7 linked regions of the Homo sapiens genome follow. The protein of the gene in region 1 purifies or fractionates together with the protein of each later gene. This does not show direct contact. Each region holds a gene or a part of one and is shown on either strand. Other genes may lie near its edges.

The links.
Region 2: the proteins of DEFB136 (region 1) and ALDH6A1 purify together in Homo sapiens (affinity purification with mass spectrometry; one large-scale study listed by BioGRID and IntAct). This does not show direct contact.
Region 3: the proteins of DEFB136 (region 1) and STK39 purify together in Homo sapiens (affinity purification with mass spectrometry; one large-scale study listed by BioGRID and IntAct). This does not show direct contact.
Region 4: the proteins of DEFB136 (region 1) and COL6A1 purify together in Homo sapiens (affinity purification with mass spectrometry; one large-scale study listed by BioGRID and IntAct). This does not show direct contact.
Region 5: the proteins of DEFB136 (region 1) and TMEM67 purify together in Homo sapiens (affinity purification with mass spectrometry; one large-scale study listed by BioGRID and IntAct). This does not show direct contact.
Region 6: the proteins of DEFB136 (region 1) and PROS1 purify together in Homo sapiens (affinity purification with mass spectrometry; one large-scale study listed by BioGRID and IntAct). This does not show direct contact.
Region 7: the proteins of DEFB136 (region 1) and MANBA purify together in Homo sapiens (affinity purification with mass spectrometry; one large-scale study listed by BioGRID and IntAct). This does not show direct contact.

Annotation. Positions count from the first base shown.
Region 1 is NC_000008.11:11,973,437-11,975,786, reverse strand, and holds DEFB136 (defensin beta 136 precursor), read left to right. Parts: upstream 1-1,187; coding exon 1,188-1,242; intron 1,243-1,668; coding exon 1,669-1,850; downstream 1,851-2,350. UniProt on the Homo sapiens protein: Host defense peptide that exhibits antibacterial and antifungal activity. Exhibits antimicrobial activity against E.coli, S.aureus and C.albicans (in vitro).
Region 2 is NC_000014.9:74,074,454-74,077,953, forward strand, and holds part of ALDH6A1 (methylmalonate-semialdehyde/malonate-semialdehyde dehydrogenase [acylating], mitochondrial isoform 1 precursor), read right to left. Parts: intron 565-3,500; coding exon 502-564; intron 1-501. UniProt on the Homo sapiens protein: Malonate and methylmalonate semialdehyde dehydrogenase involved in the catabolism of valine, thymine, and compounds catabolized by way of beta-alanine, including uracil and cytidine.
Region 3 is NC_000002.12:168,160,596-168,164,095, forward strand, and holds part of STK39 (STE20/SPS1-related proline-alanine-rich protein kinase), read right to left. Parts: intron 3,286-3,500; coding exon 3,144-3,285; intron 3,138-3,143; exon of another isoform or gene 3,127-3,137; coding exon of another isoform or gene 3,047-3,126; intron 1,248-3,046; coding exon 1,192-1,247; intron 1-1,191. UniProt on the Homo sapiens protein: Effector serine/threonine-protein kinase component of the WNK-SPAK/OSR1 kinase cascade, which is involved in various processes, such as ion transport, response to hypertonic stress and blood pressure.
Region 4 is NC_000021.9:45,984,770-45,988,269, reverse strand, and holds part of COL6A1 (collagen alpha-1(VI) chain precursor), read right to left. Parts: intron 1,745-3,500; coding exon 1,585-1,744; intron 1,327-1,584; coding exon 1,198-1,326; intron 1,116-1,197; coding exon 1,095-1,115; intron 772-1,094; coding exon 751-771; intron 661-750; coding exon 616-660; intron 1-615. UniProt on the Homo sapiens protein: Collagen VI acts as a cell-binding protein.
Region 5 is NC_000008.11:93,761,394-93,764,893, forward strand, and holds part of TMEM67 (meckelin isoform 1 precursor), read left to right. Parts: intron 1-2,448; coding exon 2,449-2,548; intron 2,549-3,500. UniProt on the Homo sapiens protein: Required for ciliary structure and function. Part of the tectonic-like complex which is required for tissue-specific ciliogenesis and may regulate ciliary membrane composition.
Region 6 is NC_000003.12:93,883,397-93,886,896, reverse strand, and holds part of PROS1 (vitamin K-dependent protein S isoform 2 preproprotein), read left to right. Parts: intron 1-393; coding exon 394-561; intron 562-2,000; coding exon 2,001-2,169; intron 2,170-3,500. UniProt on the Homo sapiens protein: Anticoagulant plasma protein; it is a cofactor to activated protein C in the degradation of coagulation factors Va and VIIIa. It helps to prevent coagulation and stimulating fibrinolysis.
Region 7 is NC_000004.12:102,722,969-102,726,468, forward strand, and holds part of MANBA (beta-mannosidase precursor), read right to left. Parts: intron 1,000-3,500; coding exon 894-999; intron 74-893; coding exon 1-73.

The sequences.
Region 1 (2,350 bases):
CTCAAAAAACAATAATAATAATAATATTGAGTACCTACTGTATGGCAGTGTGCGTGCAAAGCATTTTATAAGCTGTATCTCATTTCATCCTGAAAAAAAACCACGCATAACCTTCCAATGCACTTTTTGAGGAGTTCTTGAGGCTGAGATGCTAAATAATGCATCTGAGGGTCTAGGCCTGCAAAGCAGAGTGTACCCAGGAATACCATGCTCCACTGACACACCACACACAGCCCTGTGGTTGTTGGCTGCCTGCGTAAAAGCCTGCCTTAAGGGTCAGAACAAAATCAAAGTTAGTGTCATCTTCACCCTCAGACATCCCTCATCACCCCAAGAGAGACAGGCCTAAGGGCCCTTCTCCAGGGCTGAGTCTCTGTCACTCCAGAGAAGCCCTGTCTGGCTCCACTCTGGACACTGTGCATCCAACCTTGAACACAGCACTGAACCGACTCTTCTAAGGGAGAGTTTCAACTCCTCAACTCCAAAAAAGAAATCTCTCCTAGAACCTTCAGAGTCCCCTCATCCTAGCCAACGTTTCATACCAGCCATTTGGAGAACAAAGTCCATCAGTGAACTTTTCCAGGACTTTTTTTTTTTTTTTTTTTTGCAGTATCTGCCTTCAGCCAGGTAAATAAGTCAGCTGCTAGACAAGGAAGCTGTCCCTTCTCCACTAGTTCTGAGCCCCTACCTTCTCTTGGTCAGGCCACTGGTTGACAATTTGAGAGACTCCGTGTGTCGGAACTGTCTTTCCAGGCTTAAATTCAGCCTGTGTTTCATAACACCCTTTCTCTGCGCTCCTGAGCTTTCAGTGGTGCTCCAGAGGAAAGGAGAGACAGAGCAGACATTTTCACTGCCATGTTTATATCAAAGTACATTTGAAGGCAGAGGGAAAGCGCTCAGGCCTAGGCATGGGGATCCTGGTCTTTTCTCCTATTCTGCTATCAGGAAACGTGACAGCCTTAGCTGAGTCTCTGGTTTTCCCGCGGTTTGTAGAAAAGGAGGTAGCACTGAAAGGCCAGGGCCTTTTCTTCCTCGAATTCTGCAGAACCCTGTGATCTCCTCAGTCTGCCCCTCCAGGAAGAGTGAGGCCAGGGTCCAGCCCCACCCATCGCAGCCCAGCCCAGCTCTATAAAGGAGCCTCCCAGGCAGACACCACTGGGAGTTCCAACTCTGTGCCCTCTTCGGCCATGAACCTCTGTCTTTCTGCATTACTCTTTTTCCTGGTGATCTTACTGCCTTCAGGTAAGACAGTGGGCGTGAGTCTGAACATAAAAGTGGGTGTTCCCAAAGATTGAGATGCTTAAAAAACCCTCTAACTATAAGCCCAGCAACAGGACACCAATATCAAATGGGCCACCATGTTAGGGGCATGGTGAGCGGACCCCAGCTCCTGCCCTGCTCTGCTGTTGCTGCAGCTGGAAGATCTGCCAGTGCACCGGGGACGGGGGTGGATGTCATTGTGCACACAGATCGTGCAGCCACCCAGATTCCTATCTCCCCTCCAATGCCTCTGGCTACCCTGAGCTTTATCTGCCTTGCTGAGTTGTGATAAGAGGTGAGGTAAATCACAACTAACAAGCCATCAACCAGGAGGTGATGGCAAGCCTAGGATTTCTCCCAGCCTCATTAAGATTGATTTTTCTTTTCTGTGGTCTCTCCCCGCTTCAGGAAAAGGTATGTTTGGGAATGATGGAGTCAAAGTTCGCACCTGCACTAGCCAGAAAGCCGTATGTTTCTTCGGGTGTCCGCCAGGATACAGGTGGATTGCGTTCTGCCACAATATTCTGTCTTGCTGTAAAAATATGACACGTTTTCAACCCCCGCAAGCCAAAGATCCATGGGTTCATTAAAAGGATATGTGAATGGCTCAAAGTACTACACTCCTAATCTGTGTGTCAGGATCTTAGAGCTCGTAAGTGAGCCATGGGCAGAAATGAGGACCACATTCTGACAATTTACTGGCAAAATTCCAGAAACATTTTGTAAAGGCAGCACTGCCATGAAATGCATCCCCTGTTATTTTTCCTACCCTCCCATCTCCAATCACTCATTCCTCTTTCAAATTCAAATTCAGGCCAGGCGCAGTGGCTCACGCCTGCCCGCCTGTAATCCCAACACTTTGGGAGGCTAAGGTGAGCAGATCACTTGAGGTCAGGAGTTTGTGACCAGCCTGGCCAACATGGTGAAACCTCATCTCTACTAAAAATACAAAAATCTTCCGGGTGTGGTGGGTGCATGTAATCCTAGCTACTCAGGAGGCTGAGGCAGGAGAATTGCTTGAACCCGGGAGACGGAGGTTGCATTGAAAAGAGATCACGACACTGCACTCCAGCCTGGACAACAGAGTGAG
Region 2 (3,500 bases), on another chromosome or scaffold:
GTTTTGTATTTTTAGTAGAGATGTGGTTTCCCCATGTTGGCCAGGATGGTCTCGATCTCTTGACCTCGTGATCCACCTGCCTCAGCCTCCCAAAGTGCTGGGACACTAAATTTTTAAAGCGGTCTATGAACCAAAAAATGGTGACCTACTGTGGTACAGTGTGTGCATACTTCTGTGTAGAAAGAATTTGAGCAATAGTCCTTATTTATTAGATTTTAGATGCTGGAAGTGGTTGACAGACAGATGATCTGTAAAAACCACTCTAAAGGTCATTAAGAAGAAGACAACTATCTGGCAGGGTCAGCAGAACCTCTAGAAGCCATGAAAATGTTTGTATCTTTTGACATGGTAATCCATTTCAGGAGGGAAATAATCCAAAAGGAGGAAAAAACTAGAAAGTTTCACATACACTCTGATGACAATTATGTAAAGAAGATAGAGATACCCAAAACTATACTGAATTCCTTCTCAGAAGTCAACCTCTATGCCAAATAAACTCACCACTGAAGAAGAGAAGGAAGATGCTGAATACCAGGTGGGACTGGATTTCACCTTGGAAGAAACCTGTGAGGCAAAAGAACGATTATTTTGATAAATGAGAGCAGAAAGTTATTTAAAATTTAGCAAATAGCTACTATATGCTATTTGCTATAGTATATAGGGGGTATGTTTCTCTCAAAGGCCATACAGTCATTAAAGAGAAAAGATATGAATCTATGACACAGCAAACTATGAACAAACAATAAACCATAATAATCATGTCCTATATTTCCAGGATAGTACTGATTAAAAAAAATCTTTTTGTCATTATATTTTCCTAATTTGGGCCTGGCAAATGTACCATAAATCTAACAATATGAAAATACTTAGCATGGTATCTAACACAATAGGTACTGAATTTAAGATCATATAAAATCAATGTGCTGGGCATGGTGACTCACGCCTGTAATCTCAGCACTTTGGGAAGCTGAGACGGGTATATCACTTGAGTCTAGGAGTTTTGAGACCACCCTGGGCAACATGGCAAAACCTTGTCTACAAAAAATTAAAAAATTAGCCAGGCAGTGGTGGCACATGCCTGTGGTCCCAGCTACTAGGGAGGCCAAGGTGGGAGGATTGCTTCAGCCCGGGAGGGTGAGGCTGCAGTGAACCGTGATTATGCCACTGCACTCCAGCCAGGAAGAGAGAGGGAGACCTTGTCTCAAAAAAAAAAATCAATGTAAATATAAATATAAGTAATAGAGTATATAATCAATGTAAATATAAATCAAAATTTATTACCAAATGCAATTAAAATTATGTCCATATAGGTATTTGAAAAATGAATGTTCATAAGAACTTTATTTGTAGTAGCCCAAAACTTGGAAACAACCCAATGTCTACCATTGGATGGGTGAATAAGGAAACTAATGTGGTATATTCATACACTGGAATACTACTCAGCAAAAAAAGGAATGACCTGCTGATACATGCAATATAAATAGTCATAATAATTATGGCAAGAGACAGAAGTTAGATAATAAAAGTACATACTGTATGATTCTACTTATGTAACACTAGAGAATGCAAACAAATCTGTAATATCAGAAAGCAGAACAGTGGTTACCTAGGGATGACGAGGGAAACTTTTTGGGGTGATGGACATATGTTCATTATGTTGATTGTGATGCTATTTTCACAGGTGTATACAAATGTTAAAACTCATCAAACTGCATACTTTAAATATGTACAGATTGTTTTGTGTCAATTTTATTTTAATAAAGCTATATTGAAATGCCATAGGTACATTAAAGGAAAAAATGTGTTGGATAGATAATATTTGATGGAGTAAAATCAGTAAACGGGGAGGATCAGTTTCAACAAGATAACTCTCAAATTGTAACTCACTAAAAAAGTCTGTATATATGTTATCAAAGTTGATTTTTTGAGATGGAGTCTCACTCTGTCGCCCAGGCTGGAGTGCAGTGGCATGATCTCGGCTCACTGCAACCTCTGCCTCCCGTGTTCAAGCGATTCTCCTGCCTCAGCCTGCCAAGTAGCTCAGATTATAGGTGTCTGCCACCACGCCCAGCTAATTTTCTTTTTATTTATTTATTTTTTGAGACAGAATTTTGCTCTCATTGACCAGGCTGGAGTACAGTGGCATGACCTTGGCTCACTGCAACCTCCACCTCCTGGGTTCAAGCTTTTCTCCTGCCTCAGCCTCCTGAGTAGCTGAGATTACAGACACCCGCCACCATGCCTGGCTAATTTTATTTTATTTTTTTTGTATTTTTAGTAGAGATGGGGTTTCACCATGTTGGCCTGGCTGGTCTCAAACTCCTGACCTCAGGTGATCCACCCGCCTCAGCCTCCCAGAGTGCTGGGATTACAGGTGTAAGCCACTGCACCCAGCCTATATATATGTTATCAAAGTTGATTTAAGAAATACTTAAGCCAATCAAAATGAGCAAACTAAAATACTCAGGACTGGGATATAAAGGAAAGCTGCAATCTAATAATCTTTTATCTTGCCTGAAAAGGGACTCTGTTAACCAGAGTATAGAGCTGCATGAAGGGTGCCTGCAGCACTGCCCAGGAAAAGGTGGTGGTCCTTTGGTCCAGCAGATAGTCCTTCCAAATACCTCATCTGTTTGCTCTTCTATTCCCTACCAAAGCCATTTCAAACCACTGACACTCTCCTGGAGCCCATCATGTCTTATTTATAGCTATGTTCCCAATACCAATATAGTACTCGGTAGGTAGTAGGTGTTCAGTAAATATCTGCTGAATAAAATAGAAGCCCATTCCTGTCTGCTTCCTACCCCAAACTAGGTTAAGAGGCCCTTTTTTGTCCTCTGAAAGCAGCCAATACTTCCCGTTTCAGGCTTATCTCTCTGTGTTGTAATTGTTTGGTATCTTATTCCGTTTTGTGTTGCTATAACAAAATACCTGAGACTGGGCAATTTATAAGGAAAAGTAGTTTATTTAGTTCATGATTCTGCAGGCTGGGAAGTTCAAGGGAATGGCTCTAGCTTCTGGCGAGGGCTTCTGTCCTGTGTCATAATATAACAGAGAAGATCAAAGGGGAAGCAGACCTGTGTGAAGAGGCAAAACTGGGGGGGTATCCTGGCTTTATAGCCCACTCACACAGGAACTAATCCATTCCCATGGGAACTAATCCAGTCTCAAAAGAGCAAGAATTCACTCACTACAGCACAAAGCCATTCATGAGGGATCCACCCCCATGACCCAAACACCTCCCACTAGGTCCCAACACTATCACATTGGAGATTAAATTTCAACATGAGTTTTGGTGGAGACAAACCAACCATATCCAAGCCACAGCACCTGGGTACTTATCTGTTACCCATAAAGACTGTCAGTTTCAGGAGGGTTGACACTGCATCTGTCTTGTTCACCTACTTCAGAGTTAAAGATTAAACCTGATCAGGACTGTCCAGTTATAGAAAAGTAGTTAGCACAAAGCTGGTACTCATTAAATCTTATTGTTATGTCAT
Region 3 (3,500 bases), on another chromosome or scaffold:
TATATTTTTACCCTTCTTTAAGGAAACTGAGTCTTAAGAAGGTTTGGTAACTTGCCCAAGGTGGTACAGCTACTAAGTGGTGGCCTCAGAATTTCGATCAAGTCAGCTGACACCAGAGCCTGCACTCTGAACAACTAGACTGCTTGGGGCTGGACAGTTTGAAATCTTTGCCCACAGATGTCTCTTAGCTGTTACTTGTTTAACTGAAGTACTTTTTCAAACTGTCCTTAGCCTATGGGATAAGGTCCACTCATGAGGACAAGATATGCACACACAAAGCACTAACTCAGATGGCTCAACAACAAAATCCAGCCTCCACGATGAGGAGAGGCACCAGAGTCGGGGGGTGGGGGTGGGGGGCAGCAGATGAATCAAGAATTGCCAAAGATTGATAATTATTGAAACTAGGTGATGGGTACAAGTGGGCTCATCTTACGCGTCTCTGCAATGACAGGGTCACTCCAGTAGAGGGAATGACTGTCTAGCCAAAAAATGCCAAGAACACTCCCCCAAGAAACCATGAAAGCTAAAAGGATTGCTGAGACAGACTTTCAACGACATGGGTAAAGCAAGAGTTAATATGGGCGTGGCTACATCTTATCCCAGGCCTTTAAGGTTACTCTAGGGCCAATAACAAAATAGAGGCTTTGAACACGAAAGGTGCTCACCTGATATTGTGTGTTCATGTAAAAGACATTCATTGCATCCCCAGCCTACCAGCTTTGTCAAGAATAGCCATGTTGGGTCAGAGTTAAAAACAAAATAAGGCCCAGATTTTTAATGTTCACAATTCTTTCAGATACCTCTTAAGAAATAAATTAGTTTTTAATTGATGTGTATGATGTTTTAAATTTTCAAACCTATCGAAAAATGTTTTTACAAGTGCATTTCTTGAAGTTATATGAGTATTACCATTATAAAATGTGAAAGGTAGAAAACATAATAAAATTGAAAATAAAATTATTCTTTATCAAAAAGCTATGTACTAAAATGGCATTTTTCACAGGATGATCTAATGACTTATCAAAACAATAAGGAAAATATGTTATCCTTCGGACCCAAACATTCTGTAAATATCATTCTGAAAAGAGATTACATGCATTTATTCATTTCTCAGGAATGATTCTACATTCCTTGAAACTGTAACACTTCCGTAATCAAGTAAAAAATTTTTCTATTTATCAGCTTTACCTGCTATTTGTACTGAACCATCCTCACCCAGAAGAATATTACCAGCTTTCAAATCCCTATTAGAAAAAAAAATAGAAAATAAATTGTAGGGTACAGACTTTATAGTGTATTGATTCACTCAGGAAGATTTTAAAACATATCATACAACGCAGCTCTTTGACATAATAATTTCATAAATATTAAGATAATAGCACAGATTTTAAAAGTTATAAGGATAGGCTGGGCACAGTGGCTCACGCCTGTAATCCCAGCACTTTGGGAGGCCAAGGTGGGTGGAGCACCTGAGGTCAGGAGTTCGAGACCAGCCTGGAAAAAATGGTGAAACCCCATCTCTACTAAAAATATAAAAATTAGTTGGGCATGGTGGCAGGTGCCTGTAATCCCAGCTACTTGGGAGGCTGAGGCAGAAGAATCACTTGAACCTGGGAGGTGGAGGCTGCAGTGAGCCAACACCGTGCCACTGCACTCCAGCCTGGGCAACAAGAGTGAAACTTGGTCTCAAAAAAAAAAAAAAAAAAAAAAAAAAGGTATAAGGATCCACCTGTCACTTTATAGTTTACTCGTGGGGGAGAGTTAGGATTTTAGAAAGAAATATTTTCTATGAAATAATTATCCAAATTTAATTAAATCATCAGTAAATAGACTCTCTATTTTATGCTTCAGAGTTAGACACTGCCCATAAACTCACACTACTGTCATTCTACCAAGTATTAAAGCCCAGTCTATGTAAAGCTCCTCTACTTCCACTTAAATTTGGGATGCAATTCCAACTTAATTATCTTTCTGAAAAATGAACTTCTCTCTGGTGAGAGACTGATTATAAATACTAATTATAATAATAGATATTATATTTCTTCACCGTATAAAACCTGTGTAATCTTAGTACTTTGAAAAATGACAACTTGCAATTTATAAATTTGATTTCTAAAGTAACTTTTTTCTAATTATTGAAAAATATAGGCCAGCCACAGTGGCTCACGCCTGTAATCCTAGCACTTTGGGAGGCTAAGGTGGGCAGATCATCTGGGATCAAGAGTGTCAGTCCAGCCTGGCCAACATGGTGAACCCCATCTCTACTAAAAATACAAAAATTAGCCAGGCATGGTGCCGCATGCCTGTAATCCCAGCTACTCGGGAGGCTGAGACAGGAGAATTGCTTGAACTCGGGAGGCAGAGGTTGCAGTGAGCTGAGATCACACCATTGCACTCCAGCCTGGGCAACAGAGCAAGACTCTGTCTCAAAAAAAAAAAGAAAAAGAAAAATATAGTAGAAATAATTAAATATAAATTTCAGGGTAGGAGAATTACATTATTAGTATTACTGGTAAATGGCTATTTACTTGCAATAATTCCTAAGAGCCCAAGTAGCACTCACTCACTTGAAACATCAAGCACTCATATTCTATGTGATTTGACTATGTAAAGAATTAACATTTTATGTCACAAAAGAAGATGAGTACCTCTTCCTTCCCTCTCACCACCACATCAAAAATAATTCACATAGTACAATGTTTGGATAGTCTTGCTTGTATTAGAAAGATAGAGATGCTGTCTAGTTCAACTAGTATAATTCAAGAGTAGTTACCAAAACTGATCTTTTTAAATGAGTCCATGTAGTCCTTTTTAGATTCCACTCTTATTTCAGTGAAAGCAACTGAAGCAATCCCAAGGATACCAATATAATTCATCAAAATTTATTCTCTTGTTTCTTTCTTAAGTACTTTTTTCCCATCTATTTAGACTAAGTTAAAGTAATGTCAATACCTGCCTGCAACATGTGTTTCCTTAACATTCTTTACAAACTAGGGCTGAAGATATGAACATCTGAATTTAAACATCTCTGCAGAGGTCACACCTGTGAATCTGACCGTTTCTGTGTAGACAGTCTAAGCCTTCCAAAACCTCTTTAAGATATGAACATCTGAATTTAAACATCTCTGCAGAGGTCATACCTGTGAATCTGACCGTTTCTGTGTAGATAGTCTAAGCCTTCCAAAACCTCTTTAAGAATTGTTGCTATTATTGCCTCTTCCAGAACTCCATTCTTGTGTTCTCCTCGGTTGACAATGTATTTTATGATATCCAACATTGAACCTAAGTAGACAAACAGAAGAATTAAAACATAAGCACCTTCATCACCTTTTCAGAACAAGACTCCATTATGTATAAAATTTAATAGAAACATCAAAATATGGGCTTTATTTAATGCAAATATTCCCAAGGCAAACAAACAATTGAATGGGGGCCCCATGACCAAAAACACTAAATCCAAGTTTGCAAGAGCACTTTCAGTGTGAATTTAACGAGAA
Region 4 (3,500 bases), on another chromosome or scaffold:
CATCTGGACCCCGCCGTCCCCTCCATCTGGACCCCGCCGTCCCCTCCATCTGGACCCCCGCCGTCCCCTCCATCTGGAGCCCCGACGTCCCCTCCATCTGGACCCCGCCGTCCCCTCCATCTGGACCACGCCGTCCCCTCCATCTGGACTCCCGCCGTCCCCTCCATCTGGAGCCCCGACGTCCCCTCCATCTGGACCCCGCCGTCCCCTCCATCTGGACCCCGCCGTCCCCTCCATCTGGACCCCGCCGTCCCCTCCATCTGGACTCCCGCCGTCCCCTCCATCTGGAGCCCCGACGTCCCCTCCATCTGGACCCCGCCGTCCCCTCCATCTGGACCCCGCCGTCCCCTCCATCTGGACCCCGCCATCCCCTCCATCTGGACCCCGCCGTCCCCTCCATCTGGACCCCGCCGTCCCCTCCATCTGGACCCCGCCATCCCCTCCATCTGGACTCCCGCCGTCCCCTCCATCTGGACCCCCGCCGTCCCCTCCATCTGGACCCCCGCCGTCCCCTCTGGATCCTCATGGTGGACTTGGGTGCCCAGGAGGCTTTGGTCCTGCCACCCCCACTCCCAGGCCCCACAACACATGGGAGGAGCAGGAGTCACCACTCACCTCAAAGCCGGGGTCGCCCCGGAGCCCCGGAGGTCCTCTTGCAGGCTGCAAGGCAGAGGGGACGGTCAGCCAGGACCCCAGACTCAGGTTCCCAGGGTGCAGGGCGCGGGGTCAGGGGTCGGGGGGCACACTCACCTGGCATTCGAAGGAGCAGCACTGTGGGGGGAAAGCATGGAGACGAGTCAGTGGGAAAGCCACGGACATACGGCTGGGACACAGGGTGACATGCGACCCAGGCACATGGGCAGACGGACACACGGATGGACGCACAGGCGGACACATGTCCCAGGCACATGGGCAGACACACAGGTGGACACGCAGGGGGACACACATCCCGGGCACACGGGCAGACACGCAGGGGACATGTGTCCCGGGCACATGGGCGGATATGCATAGGGACATGCGTCCTGAACACACAGGTGGACGTGTGGGTGGACGTGTGCAGACTCACGGCTGGGGGTGGTGGGGAGGGCTCTTACCACTTGCTCCACGTTATTTTTCTGGAAAGAGAAATGGAAACGCAGAATTACTTTCCACCTGCGGCCGCCGCGGGCCTCCCCGTCTCCTGGGCAGGGGCCTCACGATCATGTCCACGATGGTGTCGATGGTCTGGCTGATGGCCTCCTCTGCGTCGCGGCTCTGGCCCCAGTCAGCCGCCGTGAAGTTGCGCCGGTACGTGTGGTCCGTGGCGATGATGCTCAGACGCGGCTCCTGGGGGCAGTGTTCAGGGTGGGCTGAGCAGGGCTGGGACCCCTGACGGCCGGGGCCGCTTCCCACAGGGCCAGAGGGGAGGCTGGGCTGGGGCGCTCCAGGCTCCTCAGCAGGAGGGGCTGGCCTCTCAGGGGCAAGGGTGGCCGGCTGGAGAACCCACACCCTCCCGAGGACCAAAAGACGGTCCCAGCTGCCGGGGGCCTTGCAGCCGCCACTCCCTGTGGTTGGGGGCATCTGCCGGGGGGGGCCGGTGCCTACCAGGTGGTCGGGTGTGATGGCCACCGAGAAGACTTTGACGCCCAGGTGCTTGGCCTCGTTCACAGCATCCTCCAGCCCCCCACAGGGTTCCTTGTAGCCCTCCAGGGGGTGCCCGTCGGTCACCACAATCAGGTACTTATTCTCCTTCAGGTGGGAGCCCCTGGACAGGAGAGGGCAGCGTGAGACCTCGAGACTAGGTGGGGGAACTGGAGGGAGACCCAAGCCTGTCCGGGAGGTGCTGGTCCCTGTCTCACCGGGAGGAGCCGCCTCTCTTTGCTGATCCTGGCTATACGGTGGGGGTTACTGAAAAGAACCTCACCATGGGAAATAACGCCTGTGGGTCTCATTTCTCTAAACTGCTTTGGAAAATCCACGCCCTCCCAGGAGAGGCACCCATGACCCCAAAGGAGGCTCGGTTCCTGGGGTGCCCTGGGGCGCAAAGCCCCTGACCAGTGAGTGGAGGCTGAGGGTGGCAGGGAGCGTGCCCCTCCGAGATGCCCGCCGCGTCTACCCACAAGCTGCCTCAACTCAAGGCTGCTCGGTCACCGTGGCTCTTGCAGGAAATGGGTGTGATGAGCAAACAACAGGGCGATCCCTGAATGCCCCAAATCCAACCCCCCGAAAGGGAAAGTGGGAGCAGCAGGAAGGAGGGCAGTATCGCAGGGCAGTCGGGCAGCCTGCTGGGGACGCTGAGCATCTCGGCCAGAAGGGCGAGCTCATTTAGGGGAGTCGTGTCTGTCTGTGGCTTCCACAGGGGGCCGCACTCTGACGTGTGTGGCCACATCCCCCATGCACCCCCTGCAGACAGCGGACGACTTCCTGAGACTCCAAGTCCCCCAGGTCCCAGCTTGGCACCAACTCTGGAGGGAAGTGGGCACAACCATTGGAAAGGGAATGTCCGGCCCACACCGGCCATGTGGCCCTCTGAGACCGACCTCGGGGAGAGGCTCTCCCCAAACCCCCCGCACCGCCTGGCTGGACAGGGCAGCCTCGGGTACCCCCACTGGGATCCTGAGGCCTCGTGAAGGGCTGGGTGTGGGGAGGCCACGTTCCCCTCTGGACACTCCGGGGCTTGCGGCCCCTGCGTCCCCACAGCTGGACACTGGGATGAGAGGAAACCCCTCAGTCCAGAAAAACCCCGAGAAAGCGCATGCTTCGGGTCTGATGAGTCTGTTTCAGTGATCCTAGCCCTGCTTGGTGTTGATGCTGTGGGGAAAACCACCCCGTCTCTCTCAGTCTCTCAGTCTCTCTGCCTCTGTTTCCGGTCTCTCTGTCTCTGTCTGTCCCTGTCTCTCTGTCTGTCTCTGTCTGTGCTTCTCTCTCTGTCTCTCTGCCTCTGTCTTTGTCTCTCTCTCTCTGCTTCTATCTCTCTGTCTCCCTCTCTGTCTCTATCTCTCTGTCTCTGTCCCTCTGTCTCTATCTCTCTATTTCTGTCTCTGTCTCTGTCCCTGTCTCTGCTTCTCTCTGTCTCTCTGCCTCTGTCTGTCTCTGCTTCTCTCTGTCTCTCTGTCTCTGTATGTTTCTGTCTCTGTTTCGCTGTCTCTGTCTCTGTCTCTCTGTCTGCCTGTCTCTGCCCCTCTGTCTCTGTCTCTCTGTCTCTGTTTCTGTCTCTGTCTCTGTCTGTCTCTGACTGTCTTTGTTTCTCTGTCTCTGCTTCTCTCTGCCTCTGTCTTTTTCTATCTGTCTCTGTCTCTCTCTGTTTCCCTCTGTCTCTCTCTCTTTCTGTCTCTGTCCCTGTTTCTGTCTCTCTGTCTCTGTTTGTCTGTCTCTGTCTCTGTCTCTCTGTCTCTCTCTGCCTGTCTCTGTCCCTCTGTCTCTGTTTCTGTCTCTGTCTCTCTCTGTCTCTGTCTGCCTGTCTCTGTTCCCGTCTCTGTCTCTCTGTGTCTCTCTCTGTGTCTCTGTCTCTGTCTCTGTTT
Region 5 (3,500 bases), about 82 Mb from region 1:
GTGCAACCTCTGTGGAAAGCAAATTTATGGTGTTTATCAAAATTAAAAATACAGATTATCTTTGCCTGGAAAGCTCTCATCTAGAAATTTCTCATTTGGATACACTTAACTGTATGCCTGAAGAAGTGTTGAATGTTTTTTTCTTGCAACATTATTCCTAAGACAAAAGATTATAAACAAAATAAGATTCTATCAAGATGAGATCAATCAATTAAATTATGATATAGTCATACAATGGTATAGAATGCAATTGTGGAAAAATAAAGAGGCAGTTCTACACATAGTGCTATGGAAAGAAATCTAAGATATATTGAGTAAAAAAGCAAGATTTGGAATAATTTATTCATTCATCTACAAATGTTTATTGAGTACCTGCTATTTATCAGCACTATTTTATGTACTTGGTATTCCACTATTTAGCTTTTTAAAGACCATTATATATGCATATGTGCTTGTATATGCACAGGTTATTTCTGAAAAGACTCATAAGAAACTGTTAACAATGCTGCCTCCTGAGTGAAGAACTGAGTGCCTGGGAATAGTGGGAAAGAGACTTAATTTTCATTTTAAATCTTTTTTTGCTTGGTGCAGTGTTTCACGCCTGTAATCGCAGCACTTTGGGAAGCCGAGGTGGGTGGATCACCTGAGGTTAGAAGTTCAAAACCACCCTGGCCAACATGGTGAAACCCTGTCTCTACTAAAAATAGAAAAATTAGCTGGGCATGGTGGCAGGTGCCTGTAGTCCCAGCTACTTGGGACACTGAGGCAGGAGAATCACTTGAATCTGGGAAGTGGAGGTTACAGTGAGTGAGATCACGCCACTGTGCTCCAGCCTGGATGACAAGAGCGAAACTCTCTCAAAAAATAAAATAAAATAAATCCTTTTGTGCCTTTTATTTTTATATTTCATATATTACCCAAAGATTAATTTTTTAATTATCTTTACCTTTTTTTTTTTTTACTTTTTAACAATTTTTTTTTTTGTGGTGATGGGGGTCTTACTATATATCTCAAGCTGGTCTTGAACTCCTGACCTCAAGCAGTCCTCCTGCCTTGACCTCTCAATGTGTTGGGATTACAGGTGTGAGCCACCATGCCTGGTCTTATTTTTTCAGAGACGTGGTCTTGTTATGTTACCCAGGCTGGATTCAAACTCCTGGGCTTAAGCAATCTACTGCACCCAGCTTCTTAGTAGTTTCATTGGCACTGTTGCCTCCATTGAAAATATTAACTTGATTCTCACGGTATTTGGGGGGTGTATTCTTAGGGATGGGACTAATGAAAGTTTTATGAGTTGGATGGCAATATGAAATTTATTACACTTCATGATGTACTAATTTTGGTGTGTGTGTCTCTGTGTGTGCACATTCAGAATTTTTTTTCCCTGTTTTATTATAAGGATCTACACTATATAGCCACAGGAAACATAAGTGGTATGTTTGCATAAATGTTTCATACACAAATATTGTTCTAGCATACTTTTTTCAGTTAACGGTATGCTCTGATGCTCTGTTAGATTTACCTGATTCTTTTTGTTTGTTTGTTTTTTGAAACAGGGTCTCACTCTTGCCCAGGCTGGAGTGTAGTGGTGTGATCTCAGCTCACTGCAACCTCCACCTACCAGGTTCAAGTGATTCTCATGCCTCAGACACTTGAGTAGCTGGGATTACAGGCACGTGCCACCACACCCAGCTAATTTTGTATTTTTTTTTTTTTAGTAGAGACAAGGTTTTGCCATATTGGCCAGGCTGGTCTTGAACTCCTGGCCTCATGTGATCCACCCACCTTAGCCTCCCAAAGGGCTGGGATTACAGGCATAAGCCTCCTCACCTGGCCTTACCTGATTCTTTTTAATATATTCCATAGTATTTTGTAGCATGGATATACCATCATTCTGCTATTTTAAATATTCGTGTTGTTTCTAACAAATAATGCCTCAGTGAATATCCTTATATACATGTTCAAGTGTTTCTGTAAGTTAGGTATCTAAAAACAAAATTGTGGTGTTATAAGGATGTGAATTTGAAACTTTAATAGATACTACTAAAAGCCTTCTAAGTTGCAGAAACTTATCAGTAATCTATGAAAATACTTGCTTCCCCATCCTAGTGTGACAGAAATGTATAGATAAGAGGTAAGAAAATTTTTGAGGAAAAAAATACTGACTTAATTGTTACGATGACTTGGAAAATGATTTTCTATATTTTACTATGTGAGAATAGGGAAGGCATCACTTCTCTTTTTTTTTGGAGGCATGGACGGGTACGAAGGGATCACTTCTCTACACTTTATTATGGAGATACTTGTTATGCCTTTAATGCAAATAAAGTGTTTTGAGAATTAATAGAATAATAGTTACAATTGGGTTTTGTTAAATATTTTCTGAATATGTAGAAGCTTATATGTTTACTATGAGTTACATCTTTATTTTGTTTCTAAACTGTTCAGTGGAAAGAGACATTAATGGAACATTGTTGTCTCAAGCAACTTGTGAGCTCTGTGATGGAAATGAAAACTCTTTTATGGTAGTAAATGCTTTAGGAGACAGGTAAGCAGTGTGATGGGGGCTAACTTCATTAATATCATCTTATATTAGTGTATAATTTGTACTTTTAAGAGTGTTTTCCTATCATATCACTTAGTTTTCACAATAACCCAAGGAAGGATAGAAGTAGACATTAACAGATACAGAAGCTGAGGCCCAGAGCGTGAGACACACTAGGGTTCAAATTTTGGTCCAGTCTGTTAGTTGTCTGACCTTGGATAGCTCACTACTTCACAATCCCTTGTCTTTAGAATGGTAATGTTACCACCCACTTCATAGGCTGTAATGGCTCAGAAATAATAAGTAATAAAGTAAATAGATACAGTTCTTAGTATAGTGCTACATAGTAACCACTCTGTACAGGGTAGCTATTTTTGTTTGTTGTTACATAATTTGTATATAATCTGTAATATAATTATGTGCTAAGTACTGTACTAAAGCCCTTATGTATTATAATGTTACATAGAAAAACATAAATGTATGCTAATAATAGCCCAGGTACCCTGATTTATAGTCCCATTTTCTGTTGCTTCCTGTTCCCCCTTTGTGCATGTATTTGTGAAACACACACACACACACACACACACCCCTGCCTGCCTATATACTTCCCTCTAATTTAAGCACATTATACCAATTTCAGCATCTTTAATTTATTAGAGGCCTACATCATGACTTCCCTCCGGGCACAGTTTTTTCTTTAGTTTCCAAGTTTAATATGGAAAATAGTTGAGCAGCTTTTCTGAGGGCTACTTAGTGTTGGATCATCTTTTCTCTAAGGCTGACCTGAGTTATGGCATCCAAATACCAATTTTTTTTGCCCAATATTTCCCCAAGCCTAGTGTGTTTTATGTCATGCCCCAGCCCGACTCCTACCTGCTCTATTTTGCAAGTGATGAATACCCATATATTCACTCATCACTGTCCTCATTGGACCAGTACCCTCCCTCCCTCTGTC
Region 6 (3,500 bases), on another chromosome or scaffold:
TATTGATTCCATGTGCGTATTATCAGACAATTGCAAAATAAGGCCACTTAAATTTTTCCTAAGATAGAATGGCTCACTTAATTGTTAATTTTCTAGCAGCCTGGAATTGAAAGATATATAACTGGATGTTTAAGCTTAACAGAATAGTATTTTTTTTAACTTTAAAATATGGTATGCTTTTAATTTTTGATCGTGCTGCCACCCTAAATGCCTTTTTATCACATTTATCATAATTTGACATTCCAAATGAGTTGTAACAAATTAATAATTACATTAAAATGATTACTTTACAGAAGTATTTTATTGGAATAATAACATAAGTTTTAGATCCCAGTATTTCAAATGACATGTAGTAATACTTGGTTATTTGGTAATTTTTCTTTTTAATTGTAGGTGTCTGTGGAAGAATTAGAACATAGTATTAGCATTAAAATAGCTAAAGAAGCTGTGATGGATATAAATAAACCTGGACCCCTTTTTAAGCCGGAAAATGGATTGCTGGAAACCAAAGTATACTTTGCAGGATTCCCTCGGAAAGTGGAAAGTGAACTCATTAAACCGGTAATGATCCAAGCTTGTATCATTCATCATGGATGAGTTCCTTTTGTCTGTAATAGATTTGAATATGTGTGTTTCTGAGAATCAATAGAAGTTGTTTTGTTAAGCATACTAAGTGTGACAACTTGAAATGATCATGGAAAAATAACATTAGTAACCCTTGAAATTATATTAATGAAATAAAAAAATGACGTAGTGGTTTTGTGCCCATTTAAATCCCCAGCATAAATCATGAAGTGGATTTCTAAAATTCTCAAGTTAACACTTGAGAATGTTAACACTAATGTTAACATTAGTAATGTAATGTTCAGTGTTAACATCATGATAATCCATACTCAGTTGTTAAACATATAAATTCATATATTTAAGTCCAAAATTACACCATTTTGTAAAAGCCAGTCAAAGGACTTTCTCAAGTCTATTTTTAGGACTTAAATGCAAGAGCTAAAGAATAGCACATAAGGTGAAATTTATTGTTAAATATTTACTATCTTACATCCGTCTTTCATTCTCTGGAAATTCGTAGTTACTTTAACTTTTAAAAGATTTCCATTATATGATATTAAGCTTGAATTAATTAACCCATGTTGACATGAGTATACCTGTTGTTTGAAACTGAGAAATTAATACACTTTAAAAGTAAAATAAATTATTCAAAAAGTATCAATCATTTATGAAACGGTTATTACATGTCTTGAGCCTGGCAGGATACTTGATGGAGGCTAAAGAATGCAAACACTTTTGTGTCTGAAGAGACTTAGAGTCTGATTGGCAAGACAAACCCATATTATAAATGCCACTAAAGAAAAACAAGGCCAGGCGTGGTGGTTCACACCTGTAATCCCAGCAATTTGGGAGGCCGAGGCGGGTGGATCACCTGAGGTCAGGAGTTCAAGACCAGCCTGGCCAATGTAGCAAAACCCCATCTCTACTAAAAGTACAAAAATTAGCCAGGCGTGGTGGTGGGCACCTGTAATCCCAGCTACTCAGGAGGCTGAGGCAGGAGAATCGCTTGAACCAGGGAGGCAGAGGTTGCAGTGAGCCAAGATCCTGCCACTGCACTCCAGCAAGACTCCATCTCAATCAAACAAACAAAGAAGATAAACAAGACAACTTAGAGCCCAGGGCCACAGCTAGAAGCAAATATAGAACTTGAAAGCAGAAAAGTTACCACTGGATGATGTAGGAGAGGCAGGTGGGGCTTGAAGTGTTAAAAACCATTAAGATCCCACTGAGGGCTTGTGATAGTATGAGCTTGCTTGTACTGAAAAAGACTGTCCATCTGAAGAATACTTTGAAAAGAAAAACTTAAATAAAATTCAAAATATTTTCAACTATTATCAAAGAAAGGATTTTTTTTCTCTTAATGAAAACCTATACTCATAATCGAGCCACTGTTTAAGTTTAAAATGCACTCCTTGACTTGTATTTTAATTTGTTAGATTAACCCTCGTCTAGATGGATGTATACGAAGCTGGAATTTGATGAAGCAAGGAGCTTCTGGAATAAAGGAAATTATTCAAGAAAAACAAAATAAGCATTGCCTGGTTACTGTGGAGAAGGGCTCCTACTATCCTGGTTCTGGAATTGCTCAATTTCACATAGATTATAGTAAGTGATTTTCCATTTATCTCTATTTTCTCATTAATGAGTAAATTTATTCATTAACAAACAGTAATAATTTATTTGTGAAACATTATTGAGTATCTACTGTGTGCCCACTCTAGTCTTATGCTTATTCATACTATTATATACCTTTTACAAAAATTTTTCAGTGTATTGGGAAAAATATAAAGGCATTTGAATGTGCTTGTGTTGTTATTTCAGGTTTATCAGTACATAGCCTGATTCCTTATGGGTAAATTCAATTGACCTATTTTAAAGTTCACTGATTTCTCACTTGTATGGAGTCTATCAATGAATGCATCAGAAAGATTCATCTTCATTTCTAGCATTTCTATTTGATGCTTTCTTAAAATTTCTACCTCCCTGTTGAAATTCCCTATCTGTTCACACTTGTCTAGTTTATGTACTGAGTTTTCAATGTATTCATCATAATTATTTTAAATTCCCTGTCTCGTAGTTCCAACTGTGTCATATCTGAGTCTCGTCATTTTGTTTGCTTTGTCCCTTGACCAAGTGTTGTTTTTCTTGCATCTTTGTGTACCATGTAATTTTTGGTTTAGATTTGGGCATCTTACGTATAACAGTAGAGACTGAGATAAAGAATATTTGTGTCTGGAAATGAGCACATTTCTTTTGCTAGGCTCTTAGTAATGGGATTGAATCAATCTAGTGAAAAGTTGAGCTTCTTAAGTTTTGTTGGTGCCAGGATTACCCTTAATGCACCACAGGTTTCAGATCTTTTATTTTGTTTTGTTTTGTTTTTGAGATGGAGTCTCACTTTGTCACCCAGGCTGGGGTGCAGTGATGCAATCTTGGCTCACTGCAACCTCTGCCACCTGGATTCAAGTGATTCTTCTGCCTCAGCCTCCTGAGTAGCTAGAACTACAGGCGCCCGCCACCACGCCCGGCTAATTTTTGTATTTTTGTGTTTTTGGCCAGGCTGGTTTTGAACTGCTGATCTCATGATCCACCCCCTTGGCCTCCCAAAGTGCTGGGATTACAGGTGTGAGCCACCGCACCCAGCCTCAGATTTTCAAAATACTACCTTCTGCTTAGAATAAGGGAATGGTTTGGTAGCTAGTTTTTCTTTTTCTTTTCTTTCTTTTTTTCTTTTTTTTTGAGACTGAGTCTCACTCTGTCACCCAGGCTGGAGCTCAGTGCCACAATCTCGGCTCACCGCAACCTCCACCTTGCAGGTTCAAGTGATTCTCATGCCTCAGCCTCCTGAGTAGCTGGAATTACAAGGGTGCGCCACCATGCCCTGCTAATTTTTGTATTTTTGACGAGGTTTTGCCATGTTGGCCAGGCTGGTTTCA
Region 7 (3,500 bases), on another chromosome or scaffold:
CATACAACACCGCTGACTGGAAACGCAGCTCAATGGAGTTCACGTCCCTGACCACGTTGGTAATATCAAAGCTCTAAGTTAAAGGGAACAATCAGACAAACCCATGATGTGGAAGTAGTCTTGTGTGTAAAATTTTAGATAAAGGCATTTTGTATGAAAGACACATAATATAATGCCGATCTAGGTTTAGCCTCCTTGCAGGAGGGAACACTTCTCTGAAACACTGTAGTATCTATCACTTAGTTGCCCACTTTTAGTTAAAACTAAGCATATTTTCCTACCCAATCCAAGTTTCTAGGCTTCTCCTTCTATTTTTCCTGGCAAAATGATGGTCCTAGGGAAATGGATAGAGCAAAAAATAACTTTAGCTCTGGAATGTCTGCTCTGTCTACTTATATGTGGCCTTGAACTGCCAAGGGTTTCCTAGACACTTCATGACAACCTGCCTCTCCGGTATGAACAGCATGCATTTCTAAGTAATGAGTTATTTTTGTTTTGAAAAGTCTACCTTTGAAAGGAAAGGAAGATCAGCATATAATCTCTTAATATAACTATTCCAGAAAGGAAATGACATTTTATTTTAAAATCATTTGTCCAATGAAACTGTATCAGCAGAGGAGGGATTGGCATGTTTTGAACACTTCCTATGTGCCAAGAACTTGCCAACATTTTATACAATTAGCTTACTAAATCCCCACACTAACCCCATGGGGTTTGTAAGGTTTCCATTATTCCACAAATGTGGCAACTGAGAAATCAAGTAACTCATCCAGTGCTTTAATGAGCTCATATTTGTCACATGGCCAATTATGCATTTACTTTTCTCTACTCACAAAAGCAATTAACATAAACACACATAAATTTTTTTTAACCTAATGTCATTATATACTTACATATCTATTGAACATATTGTCTGTTTCCCCAATAGTGACTTCATTGAACAGGATTTTTGAAACCGTATCCACTCCCTCAAGAATCAAATTTACTTTTTGCCATTTGCTAAAAAAAAGAAAAGATTTTTAAAACAAGATGTGTAAAGCATTAACTTAGATAAGTCTCTTTTTTATTATTTAAGGCCTAAAGAAATAAATATTCCACAAAAAATATATGTTCTTAAAAGGCAGTTTCCAGTGACATTTTCAGAAGTACTGCTTTAAAACATACTTACGTCCTTTGAGTGATCCAGCTTATCTTTCTCTATAATGTATCAATAAATCACCATAAAACCAAGAGCACAACTTATAATTTCCAAATATATTGACTTTTTCTAGTTAATACTTCAGAAAGCTATTATGAGAACCAAGTTAGGCCAGGAGCAGTGGCTCACGCCTGTAATCCCAGCACTTTGGGAAGCCTAGGCAGGCAGATCACCTGAGGTCAGGAGTTCGAGACCATCCTGGCCAACATGGCGAAACCCTGTCTCTACTAAAATTACAAAAAACTAGCCAGGCGTGGTGGCGGGTGCCTGTAATCCAAGCTACTAGGGAGGCTGAGGCAGGAGAAACACTTGAACCCAGGAGGCGGAGGTTGCAGTGAGTGGATATCCCACCACTGCACTTGCAAGATTCCGTCTCAAAAAAAAAAAAAAAAATGAGAACCAAGTTAAATAATAGACATAAAATGTTCTCACAAACTACATTTACTGACCCTGTCTAAGAGAACACGTTAGAAAACTATCATCTATAAGTGAATATTATGCACCCAGCACTCTGCTAAGCCTTACAGGAAACTATAACAGTGCCTGTACTTAAGGAGTCTGCAATCTGGTTGGCATTTGGTGGCTGGCTGGCAATATTGTTGAACAACTACAAGTGCTATCAGAGTTTATCTCATAAGAAAAGATTTCAAAATGGAAACAAGAACTTAATGAAGAGAAGAATAAATAAAATGTGTTGTATTCATACAATAAAATACTATTCAACAATAAAAAGGAATGAAGTACTGATACATGCTACAACATGGATGAACTTTGAAAACATTATTATGCTAAGTGAAAGAGGCGGTCACAAAGGCCCACATATTGTATGATTCCATTTATATGAGGTATCCAGAACAAGGAAATCCAGAGGGACAGAAAGTAAATTAGTGGTTCCTAGGGCTGGGGTAAGAATTCAGGGGCAGGAGGAGTGGGCAATGGGAAATGACTGCTAATGGGTGTAACTTTTTGTGGGGGGATGAGGAAAATGTTCTAAAATTGATTGTGGTGATGGTTTTGTAACTGTAAGTATACTAAAAACCATTGAATTATATACCTTAAATGACTGAATTGTACAATATGTTAATTATATATCAATAAAGTATTTTTTTTAAAACTAGGTAGAAATGACTGGGTGGAGGCATTTCTACTCCCCTTATACCCTTTGCTCTTTGCAGGAACCCCTTACCCCTGCAAAGAGCAAAACCAAAACAAGGAAGTGCTGACAGCATGAATTACTTTTAGGTAATCGACTCATATGTGTAATTTGGGCTGGGGAGCTAAGGAGGAAAAAGCTGGACAAATCCAAGGGGCAGAGAGGTGCGGGCAGTGTTACAGGGACAGACATCTTTCAGCTGTATTTTCACAGACAAGTGAGAAGTTTATACTTGATTTGCCAAGTAAAATAGACACTTGCTATTCTTGAACGAATACCTATCTTGGCACAATCAATATTCTGTGATGATTAATCTAATGTTTCTAAATTGAAAAGATTGGAGAATAAAAGAACAAAGCAAGAAATTTGATTAGGCAGCTTTGGCCTCTTTCCTGGCACTCTTCTAGGCAAAGATGGAAAGATGGAAATGAGATGGAAGGGGCCAAACCAAGAGAAATGTTAAACAAAAATTTGCAAGACCCACCCAGAACAGACTGAACACAGGAAGATGAAGAAAAGATGTAATAAGCCCAAAGCACCTTAGACATAGACTGGAAAATGGTGTTACATCAAGAAAAACAATGAAGCTGTTAGAATATAAAGTTAGTTTTAAGGGGGAAAATCAATTGGATATGTTGAGTTCAAGGTGAAATAGAACCATTACGAAAGATATTCTAAATATTATCTGTAAATAAAAGCCTGGAGCACAGCAGTAACTCCATGATATTGATAACAATATTCTGGCCTTTTCCCCCCTTTAAAAGACTAGTAAATAATTACCAAAAAAAAAAAATCACATAAAAGGGACAGAAGGATTTTTTTTTTCATTTAGCAGTAGTGGTGGTACCTTTGGGTAACATTCTACCTCATATGGAAATATTTGCTTATAATAACAGAACATTACTGAAAACAGTATCTGTGCTTCACCTCCTGGCTTCACCACATAGTATAGGTCAAGGTCATAGTCTCAATGGCTGGTTAGCACTACATAGGGCATAACCACTGGAAAAATGACTCCATAAGACACAATTTGGTGACTGTTGATTAGTAGCACCATCCTCATATACAAAACAAAACATAAATAATATATTCACTTTTATAGTACAAGGCTTTCATCTTACTTAACTCTCAGATATGTAACCTAAACAA